Regions from separate parts of the Homo sapiens genome. Here region 1 is linked to region 2. The links come from fine-mapping of genetic effects on plasma protein levels. A gene starts in region 2. The other region holds a variant in brackets. All regions are shown on one strand. Distances are between the middles of the regions.

Region 1 (5,000 bases), 18 kb before region 2:
ATTACTAATTTTTTAAAACAGTCCATTCTTTTTGAATTGTGAAATAACTCACAATTTACTCTGAAATAATAATAATCATGAGAAAATGATTGTTCCTTTACTTCCTCTCCTTCCTCTAACTATTTTTCTTTGTTACATTTTTTTTACATTTTCAGTGTTCATAATAGTTACTTTCTATTCTGTGACCATAATTCTCACAGTTGATTAGCCTTTGTTTCTATATCTAAATCAGTGGTTTCCAATCTTGTCTACACAATATTCTCACTTGAGGTTGTGTCAAAAAATACTGATTCTGTGGCCCCATCTGTGAGATTCTGAATTGAATTAGTCTGGAGAGGGGCTTTGACGAGTCAATGTGTGACCTTTTACAAAGGTCTTTGACGAGTCTAATATGCAGCCAGGGTTGAGAGCCAGTCATAATGCGGTTTCCTCATTATGAGTCCTTTATATTCATTTACATCTTGTTGGGCTAGATTTTGTCATTAGGTGTTTTTTCCAGAAGGCTTAGTGCATTCTCAGTTTCCTGAATCCCTGTATTTTTGACAATGTCTTTTTGAATTGATATAAAATTTTCGGTTATTATTCTTCCCTCGCAGGTCCAAGTCTGGACCTCCTCTCTCTTTGGTATTGAGTGCACTGCAAAGTCTAAGACTAACTTGATGTTTTTCTTTCTGAGACGACTGCTTTTTTCCCCATAATCATAGGCACATATATATATTTTTAACCTCAAAGTCAATAACGTCATCAACATATATGTTCTGATCTACATATTCAAGTTTTCTTTACTTCCCAACAATTTCTACTACATTTTTGAGTTTCATTTTACTCTTCGGTTCAATTTTCTGAGGGTCTCCATTTTAATTATCCACATAACTGGATACAGACAAATCCATTGTCTGATTTCCATATTATAATTTTTGCCTTTATTTCTGTATCTTTCTACTTTGCATTCTGTATTGTTTTCTCAAATTGGTTCTTCATTCAATTAATGGTTTTCAAAGATATCCAATCTATTCTTACTGCTTCAAATTGGTATTTCATTTCTAAAATAGCTTTGTTTTTTTTCCTCTTGGGCTTTGCTAGATGATTTTTTTAAATCCCCTCTTATCATCTTGTCATATCATCTGTCCACTAAATTACAAATGTTGACTGAGGACCTACTGTGTGCCAAACACTGAGTAGGCACAGGGATGTTGTGAAGACCAAGATGGATGCAGTTCTGTTCTCATGAAGCTTACATTCTACTGGCATTAAGGGTGACAGTCAAGAAACAGAAAATAAAGAGGCTTAAGATGCTGCTGAATATGAGAAGAAAGTAAAACATGGATAAAAAGATAGTAATGGGATGCAGAATGAGTGAAGTCTAGAAGCTTCCTAGTAGATTTGGCTCTGACTTTGGAGTAGTCTCAGAACATTCACATTTTAAAAATAACCTCTTTACTCAACAAGTTATGCTAGGGGCATGTCTGACACATCAGGCTCAAGATTTTTCTATCATACCATTTGGCTTCTCTGAAAAGAAAGTAAACTTTCCCCCAGTTTCTATAAACAAAGATTCAAGTAAAAACAGAAGCAACTTAGCTCCTAAAAAGACACCAAATCGTACACATACAATTTGCACACGTTTCTTGAATGTATGTCATACTTCAACAATAGTTTTTTTAAAATAATACAATAAAATGATACTGATTTTAGCAGGTTAGAAAACAAGGGATCATAAAAACTCCAGAAGTTTGAGGAGTTGGTTCCTAGGGAGCCATTTCCCCCTTTGTTCACCAGCAGCTTTCTCCAAATCTACCATAAGATTGGAAATCCTTTGGAGAATTTAAGGTCTTGACCAATATTTATCTATAAGACTGTGCTTGTAGCTAAGTTAATATGTAAATGTCAGTAGAGAAGTAGGACACGCTCCGTGCATCAAGAAAAATTGGCGTACTGTTGGAACATACAAGGAATGAGGAGAAAATACAATAAATAAATTCATTTGGTAAAAGCTGGGGAATCTACTGAGCTGTTTTAGGGGTCTGGCTGAGCCAGGACTTATGAGTACGGAAAACCCCAGCTAGTTAGTTGAGGAGGAAGCCAAGAAGGGGATTAAGTTGATTAGGGGAGGAAACTGGACAGTGCAAACAGATTTTTAAAGGAATGGGTGAGAGAGAACTCAGCCAGGGGTGGGTGACTGGCAAGAACCCAGCACTTACCAGTGACAAAAAGGCTCACCACTTCACTGCGCTGGGGACCAAAGCCATTGTCAGCTGTGCAG[T/C]AGTAATTCCCTGAATGTCCTTCAGTCAGAGAGAAGCTGAAGGACACTCTTCCCACAGAGGGTGTTGAGCTGCTCCACAGGGGCATGTCCTCATGATAAAACTGGTATAGGATTTGTGGGGAACCTCTCTGGACTTCACAGTGAAGTGTCACAGTGGCTCCTTCAAAAGTCAGGGCCTCAGCAGAGCTGAGGGTGAGGACAGGATGAGACACAGGGACTGAGGAAGAGAAAGATTGAATCAAGAGTTGCTTTTGCCTCTTACTGTAGATTTCAACACTTGGCCAGTGCAGATGCCCAGTCTCCAGTACAGGATCTCTAGACTTCACCTACCTGGAGGGCAGCCAAGCAACTTCTCAGGTTTCTGTGACCAGCCCTCCATGCTGGTCTTTCCCTATCTGTTCATCTTTCCAGGAGACCAATACTCTCTTCTTCTCTCATGGCTCCTCTTGTAGTGTGACCTGCCTCCTTTTTGCAGAGGAGATGATGCTTTCAAGGAAAAAATTCCTTGTCTTGCCACCACCAGACTCACTTGCACCGCTCCTCACTTCTTCCTGCAACCATGCAGGCTTCCCTGCAACCATGGAAGAGCCATGCCTGGCCTGCCCAAGGGGGATTTTCCTATGTCTCTTGACCTTGTGCACATCTGCCTCTGTCCTAGACATAAAGTCCTTACCTCTTTTGGCTTCTTCCAAACTACATTTTGGTGTGTTTAACTATCTCCATATAAGAAAAACTATCAGACAATTCAAAAACAACTTTATTTGTATTTGAAGTTCCTCACAGTTGGTTCCTCCACTTTTCTGTGGACAGACTTCTGGAAGAAGTGACCTACATTTATCATCTCTACTTCTTTATCTCATATCTCATATGCATATTCTGTCCATTACAACTCAGTTTTTACCCCCAATAATCTACTAAAGCTGATTTTTCATGTTTATGAATGTAGTAATGATGATAATGATAAATATAAAAAAGATATTTGTTATAATGAGATTATAGTGCCTTTAAGTTCTGGTGTGTGTATATTTGTCAGATGTAATTTGTGAATATCTATATGTATAAAGACACTAAGTTAATCATCAAAACAATTCAATGAGGTAGGTATTATTGTTGTCCCTATGTCACAGATGAAAATACTGAGGCCCCGAGTGGTTGAGTCACACAGCTAGTAAGTGAAGAGGCAGCAGTCAAACCCAGGTATTCTGGTTCTAGTCTGTGTTCTTCTGCCAAAGGGTACTTTGTGGCTAAATTCACTGGATGTGACTCAGTTTTTTTTTTTTTTTTGAGATGGAGTCTCACTGTGTCACCCAGCCTGGAATTCAGTGGCATGATCTCAGCTCACTGCAAACTTTGCCTCCCGAATTCAAGCAATTCTCCTGCATCAGCCTCCTGAGTAGCTGGCGTTACAGGCGACCGCCACCACACCTGGCTAATTTTTGTATTTTTAGTAGACACAGGATTTCACTATGTTGGCCAGGCTGGTCTCAAACTCCTGACCTCAGGTGATCCACCTGCCTCAGCCTCCCAAAGTGCTGGAATTACAGGCATGAGCCACCTCTCCTGGCCATGACTCAGTTTTTATCTTTCATCATCTCTTAGCTTTGCCTTATCCAAACTGGCTCACTATCATCTGCTTAGAACATGTTCTACCCTTGGTGACAGTGGGGCACACTCTCACAGTGAGTGCCTTTTCCCTTGGCCAGAGTCCTTCCTTCTCATGTCCCATTTCCTCTACTGGGACTAGACTGGGGGTTCTGTCCAACTGGACACTCCCTTGTTGGGCTCCCTCCTTCACGCCTGGCTGCTCCTCAAACAGGTTGCTCTATGACCTGATCCCCACTGTACTGCTGGAGTGGTTTTCCCCAACATTTAAAACCTTCATGGAGCCCAGATTGCCCTGCAGAATATGGCCCAAGCCCTTACTCTGCTTCTAAGTAGGTTCTAATGATGTTGTCTTCCCCAACCTTATCTTGTGGTTCTCCACTGTTCTGTCTATGGTTCAGTCATCAAGAACTGACCACTCTCCAGTTCCTTGAAAGTGTCCTCCCTCCCTCACCACAATCCTCTTCTCCATCAGGTCTCATCTTGTTGCGGGAAGTCAGGGACCCCGAATGGAGGGACCAACTGAAGCCATGGCAGAAGAACATAAATTTTGAAGATTTCATGGACATTTATTAGTTCCCCAAATTAATACTTTTATAATTTCTTATGCCTGTCTTTACTGCAATCTCTGAACATAAATTGTGAAGATTTCATGGACACTTATCACTTCCACAGTCAATACCCTTGTGATTTCCTATGCCTGTCTTTACTTTAATCTCTTAATCCCATCATTTTTGTAAACTGAGGATGAATGTCACCTCAGGACCCTGTGATAATTGTGTTAACTGCACAAATTGTTTAAACAATATGAAATCTGGGCACCTTGAAAAAAGAACAGGATAACAGCAATGTTCAGGGAACAAGGGAGATAACCTTAAACTCTGGCTGCCTGTGAGCTGGGTGGAACAGAGTCATATTTTTCTTCTTTCTAAATCAAATAGGAGAGATATCACTGAATTCTTTTTCTCAGCAAGGAACATCCCTGAGAAAGAGAATATGTCCCTAAGGGGAGGCCTCTGAAATGGCCGCTTTGGGGATGGCTGTCTTTTATGATCGTTGCTGAGGGATGAAATAAGCTCTGGTCTCCTGTAGTGCTCCCAGGCTTATTAGGACGAGGAAATTCCTGCCTAATAAA
Region 2 (5,540 bases):
AAGGTTAGAATTTCAGACTTTGATGGAGCACTCTGTCAGTGGACAGAATTTAATGGGACAATATGAAGCAGGGAGACTGATTAGAAGGCAGGGCAAGGAAATGGACATGAATTAAGCCTCCCTTGGGCACCAGACTCCAGGCTATACTCTTTTCATGAGATCATTGAATCCAAGGGCTCATTATCATCATGCCTAATTTTTAAACAATCAACTGATGCTCAGATTATTTAGACCTGATGCTCAGCCCAAGAGATGGTAATGTGTAATTTTTGTCAGAGTATTTATCCAAATTATCTTCATTATCTGCTTGTTTATTTTCCCTTCTCTATAATGCAAGCTCTATGAGACCTAGGACTTTCCTTATGTTCACCATATATCCTCCAGGACCTATAACGGTGAATGGCATATAAAAGATATTCCTTTAATGTTCACTAAATATATTTGTGTTGTATAATGAATTAATTAAAGAACTAGGTTAATAATATAGGAATAGAAGGATAGAGATTTGAGAAATGGGTAATGAAGAGAGAGAGGACACAAAACTGGCAGGTTTATCAATTGAGTAGGTATTCTGCATATGGGTTGATTTATTTATTCAACAGATTTTTGGAATGCCAATCATACTCCAGAGCAAGGCAATAGAAATCCAGGAGTGTGTGAGAGACAAATCATCCCTGTCCACATGAGGCTATTGGAGACTTATCCAAACTTAAGTGTTTTACTGAGAACAACAAATTATTCACCATTCACCTGAATATTTTGGCTTCCTTCATCTTTGCATTGTTTTAAATGAAGCTAATATTTTTGTGAGTGGTTTCTATATGGTCTGCATTTACGTAGGTTATTTCATATAACCATGTCAATAATCCTGTGAGGTAAGCACTAGGATTAACTGCATTTTGTAGACCAGGAATCTGGTAGCCAGTAGGTGGCAAGATGAAGTTTGAACCTAGATCCTGTTTGACCCCAGAGCCCATGTTATAAACTTTGCCCTCTCATGCTCAGGACCTGGCCATTACCCACATTGTGTGGGGCCACACTGAGATGTATTCCTACTTCAGGAATTATAGTCCATGCACCTTCCAACTGTGAGGTCCTCTTTTCTTATATCACGCCTGCTCCATTTCTGCTCCTCTAGCTCCTACTCACCTCTAAGTTTCATGAAGTCTTTACTAGCTATTTTGAATACAGTTTATTATCTGCCTACAGCATTCATTGGTAACTTTGCCTGGACAATTATTTAACTGGGAGCTTGTTGCATAGCTGCTTGAAAGTACATTGGCCTTGCTGGGAGCCCTTCTATGTCATGACTTTCCAGAACATAGACGTAGTGTCTCCTATGGACTCTAATTGCTCAGCACCTGTGCATAGATATTACTAAACACATTTGCTGAACAAATAAATAAACATATTTAATTATAATATTTAACCTTTAGTAAAAATCAACCAGTTCGCACATATGAGTTGATAGAGACTTACGTACACCCACAGGGACAAAGAGAAAGTCATATGCTTTAGATTTATCCTTGCTTTGTCCACCTACGCCTCTGCGACCTCCTCCACCCCATGTTCTTAATCAGCCAATTGCTGCAGTGGTTTGCAATTATGTACAAGAGAAAGACCTGTCTTTCCCGTTAGAAACCTTGCCTCTTATGCTGGGGACCAGGATCTGGCCTTGTCATACAAGGAATAAATACATCTCCTCTGCAGAGAGGAGAGTGGGCTCTTCTATGAGTAAGACAATATGAACAAACAAACATGAAACATTCTCTGGACTTTAAGAAGTACTTTTTAAAGAAAAAAATAAATGAAATTTTAATTGTTGTGGTTATTGTGGTTTCCTACTCTGTAAGATTGAAAATTCCTTCCAGCTGTGGCCATTTTCTTCAGCCTCAAGAGAAAGCCCTGAGCTACAGAGTAAAGTTCAAAAATACAGTCTCCTAATGTAGGAGAGAGTCTCTCAGCAGGGGCTGAGCCCCAAGAAAGGACCAGGCCTGCGGTGGAGAGAGAAGCTGTCCCGATCCCACCCAGGGCCCATGGTGAGCCCTTTTACTCACCCAGGACCAGTAATATCACCCACAGCAGCATGAAGACCTGGACCACCAAGGGCTGAGATCAAAAGAGAAGTTTCCTCAATTCCAAAACAGGTTTGGACTTGATCTTACAGTCAGGACACTGCACACCAGCTCCAAGGAGCACATCTGAGAAGCTGTGCTCTCAAAAAGAGCAGAATGCATTAGTGAATTGAAAAAAGGAAGTGGGAGTACCCGTCTTCAGCTGCTAATCACAGTTTCCTACCCGATGATCAAAGAAAAAAAAAAGTTAAGGTTTTAAAAAATCAAATACCCTTGACCCTACATTTTTGCTATTGGGAAATTACCCTGAAGGAAGTATCTGAAGAGAGTACTATAAGAACGTTTATTGTAGCATTCATTATTGCCTAAACACTGGAAACAAAACAAAAAACCATGATATGGGGACTGTTTAAGAATATTCTGATTCATCCGTATGGTGACAAGCAATCATTAAAGAATAAGGTAAATCTGAACATGCCAAGAAGGGAAGACCACCTTGTTTGATGTGAAGAGAATAAAAGTGAGATATAGATTGGTTTTGTAGTATTATCCCATTGGGTAAATATAAAAAATAGGATATATGTGTACATCAACTCTTTTAAGTATACTTTCTTCTTTTCCTGGAAAGTACACACAAAAATATTGATTATGTTTGAGGAGCAATAGGTGGGAAGAACACAATTTATTTTATGTATTTCTGTACCGTTTGATTTTTTAAAAAATTACCAGGTGAATGTATAGCTCTTATGATTTTCTAAAAGTCAAGTTTCCATCCTGGTATACTGGTCAACAGAGGTTCCTAAGACATTAGCTGCCACGAGGAGTGCCAGTTTCTTTCTTTCAAATATTTTCTCACCCTTTCTCTCTGGGCCCATACCTTGGTCTTCCTAAGGGGGCATTTAATTTTATATCTACAAATGCACATCACCTTAGGTATATTATGTCACATCTGACCCACTGCACCCTGAGGCAAGAAAACCATACAGGGGTTACAGGGGTGAATAGAGATTAAGAGGAGAACTTCAAAGGGAACACAGAATCTTTACCTACTTTTGGTGCTAAAACAAATAGTGCTGCTATGAACATTCTTGTATACATTTATTGGGGCATATGCGCACATAATTCTGTTGGGTATATATCTGGGAGTGGAAGTCCTGGCTCATAAGGTATGCATATATTCAGTTTAGGAAGTATTACCAAATTATTTTCCAAAGTGGTTGTGCCAATTCCCACCACACCCACCAACCAATGTATGAGAGTTATCATTGTTCTAAAATTCTTGCTGATATTGGTATTGTCATCTAGTAAAATCTGGCCGTTCTGCTAGAATTATCTCAATGTGGTTTTAATTTGTATGTCTCTGGTGAATTTGAGAATGAGCATTTTTTCATAGTCTAATTGGTGATGTAGATATCCTTTTTATGTGCAATCTCTGTTCAAATATTTCCTCATTTTTCTCTTAACTTTCAGTCTTTCTTTTCCTGTTTTGTAGTTATTTTAAACCCTGAATATAAACCTTTTGTTGGATATATGTATTGCAAATGTCTTCCTTCAATCTGTGGCTTGCTTCTTTGCTCATTGATAGTGCCTTTTGATGAACAACCATTCTAACTTTGACATAGTCCAGTTTATCAGTCTTCTCCTTTGTGGTTAGAGATTTTTGCATCCCTTCTAAGAAAGTTAGTCTACTCCAAGATCATAAAGATACTCTCCCAGGTTATCTTCTAGAAACTTTATTTTTTACCATTTATTTTATATTTATAAGAGCATTGCAATTGATTTTTGTGTACAGTTTGAGTGTTTATATTCACTTTTAACTTAAATACAGATAATTTATCCTGCCCTATTTATTGAAAGTTGATTTTTTCCACAGTACAGTGCAATTTCACCTTTGTTATAAAACAAAAAGCCATGTAGGTCTATTTTTGGAAACTCCTTTCTTGTCCATTAGTCTATTTTGTCTATCCTCATGCCAATACCACACTCTTCTAATTATTGTGGCTTTATAATAACTCTTATTAACTGATAGTTTAAGTCATAAAATGCTGTTCTTCTTCAAAATTGTTATGGCTATTTTTGGCTTTTTGAATTTTTCTATACATTTAAAAATCACCTTGTCAATTCCTGTCCCCTCTCTCCCCAAAAGCCTAGTAGATTTTTAATAACTGGGATTGCATTGGATTTATAAGTTAATTTGTATAAATTAGAAAAGATTTAGTCTCCCAATCCATAAACATACAATATCCCCTCATTTATTTAGGTTAACTTGACATTCTTTCAGTAATTTTCTATAGCTTTGCCTCTGGAAAGTATATCTTTTGGTAGGTTTATCCTTAGGTTATTGATATGTTTTTTATGATATTGTAAGTGACATCATTAGATTTTTTTCTAAATGTATATTGGTATATAGAAATATAATACTTTTTTGTTTTACTGACCATTATTTTTATTTTTTTGAGACAGAGTTTTGCTCTTGTCCCCCAGGCTGGAGTGCACTGGTGCGATCTTGGCTCATTGCAACCTCCACCTCCCAGGTTCAAGCGATTCTCCTGCCTTAGCGTCCCAAGTAGCTGGGATTATAGGTGTCTGCCACCATGCCCAGCTAATTTTTGTATTTTTAGTAGAGATGAGGTTTCACCATGTTGGCCAGGCTGGTCTCAAACTCCTGACCTCAAGTTATCTGCCCGCCTTGGCCTCCAAAAGTGCTAGGATTACAAGCGTGAGCCACCATGCCCGGCCTTACTGACCTTTTAATATCTACTAAAATTGCGGAATTTACTTATTAATTTTAATAGTTTATCTTTAGGTTATTTTAGATTTCATGCAAACACAATCATATAATGATAGTTTTATTCATTATTTTTAATACTTAAACTTCCTTTTCTCTCACTTATTGCACTGACTAGGAACTCAAACATGATACTAAAGAGAAGTGGTAATATCAGGTGTCCTGTCTTAGTCTCACAGAAAAAGCTCTTAATATTTCAATATTAAATATAATATTTTCTGTAATTTTTTTTGGTGAATACTATGTATCAGATTAAATACCTTTCCTTATATTTCTAATTTGCTAAGAAATTTTCCTTTTTTCCTAAATAATGGATGCTGTTTCAGTAAATACCTTTATTGCCTCTATTAATATGATCATATGATTATTTACTTTTATTGTTAATATGATGAATTACATGGATGATTATAAATGTAAAATCAACTGTGCATTCCAACTTGGCCATGATGTGTTATCTTTTTTATATATTCTTGAATTTGACTTATAAATTTGCTGTGCTTTTTAGCATTTGTGTTCATGAGGAAGATGGACCAATTTTCTTTCTTGATGAATTTTAGTAACAAAATTATATTGGTCTCATAAGCAAGCTCCTTCTTTTTCTATTTTCGTGAAGAGTTTGTGTACGACTGATGTTATTTCTTCCTTAAATGTTTGGAAGATTTTACTGGTAAAGGTAC

Alleles and levels. Alleles are on the strand shown, and positions count from the first base shown. The strength of an association depends on the size of the effect and on how common the allele is.
For the plasma level of the protein whose gene starts at base 2,241 in region 2, allele C in region 1 goes with a lower level than allele T (weak association).

What was found. PIP is the chance, under the fine-mapping model, that this variant and not a neighbour inherited with it causes the effect. Protein levels are from antibody-based Olink assays in UK Biobank. Linkage for the fine-mapping came from a reference panel and not from the study's own genotypes, which makes the PIPs less certain.
Region 1: its variant is fine-mapped to the plasma level of the FCRL5 protein (UK Biobank, PIP above 0.99). The variant lies in the coding sequence of FCRL5. If it changes the protein, the assay may bind it differently, which can mimic a change of level.

The regions. Positions count from the first base shown.
Region 1 is chr1:157,532,413-157,537,412 of GRCh38, forward strand. FCRL5 (Fc receptor like 5) reads right to left here. Exons shown (of 17, transcript NM_031281.3): 8 at 2,202-2,480. Among named protein-coding and RNA genes, the nearest start is that of FCRL5, 18 kb to the right of the region's middle. The variant T/C (reference allele first, on the strand shown) is at 2,264.
Region 2 is chr1:157,550,275-157,555,814 of GRCh38, forward strand. It overlaps FCRL5 (Fc receptor like 5), which reads right to left and starts at 2,241. Exons shown (of 17, transcript NM_031281.3): 1 at 2,058-2,241. The coding sequence starts at 2,088.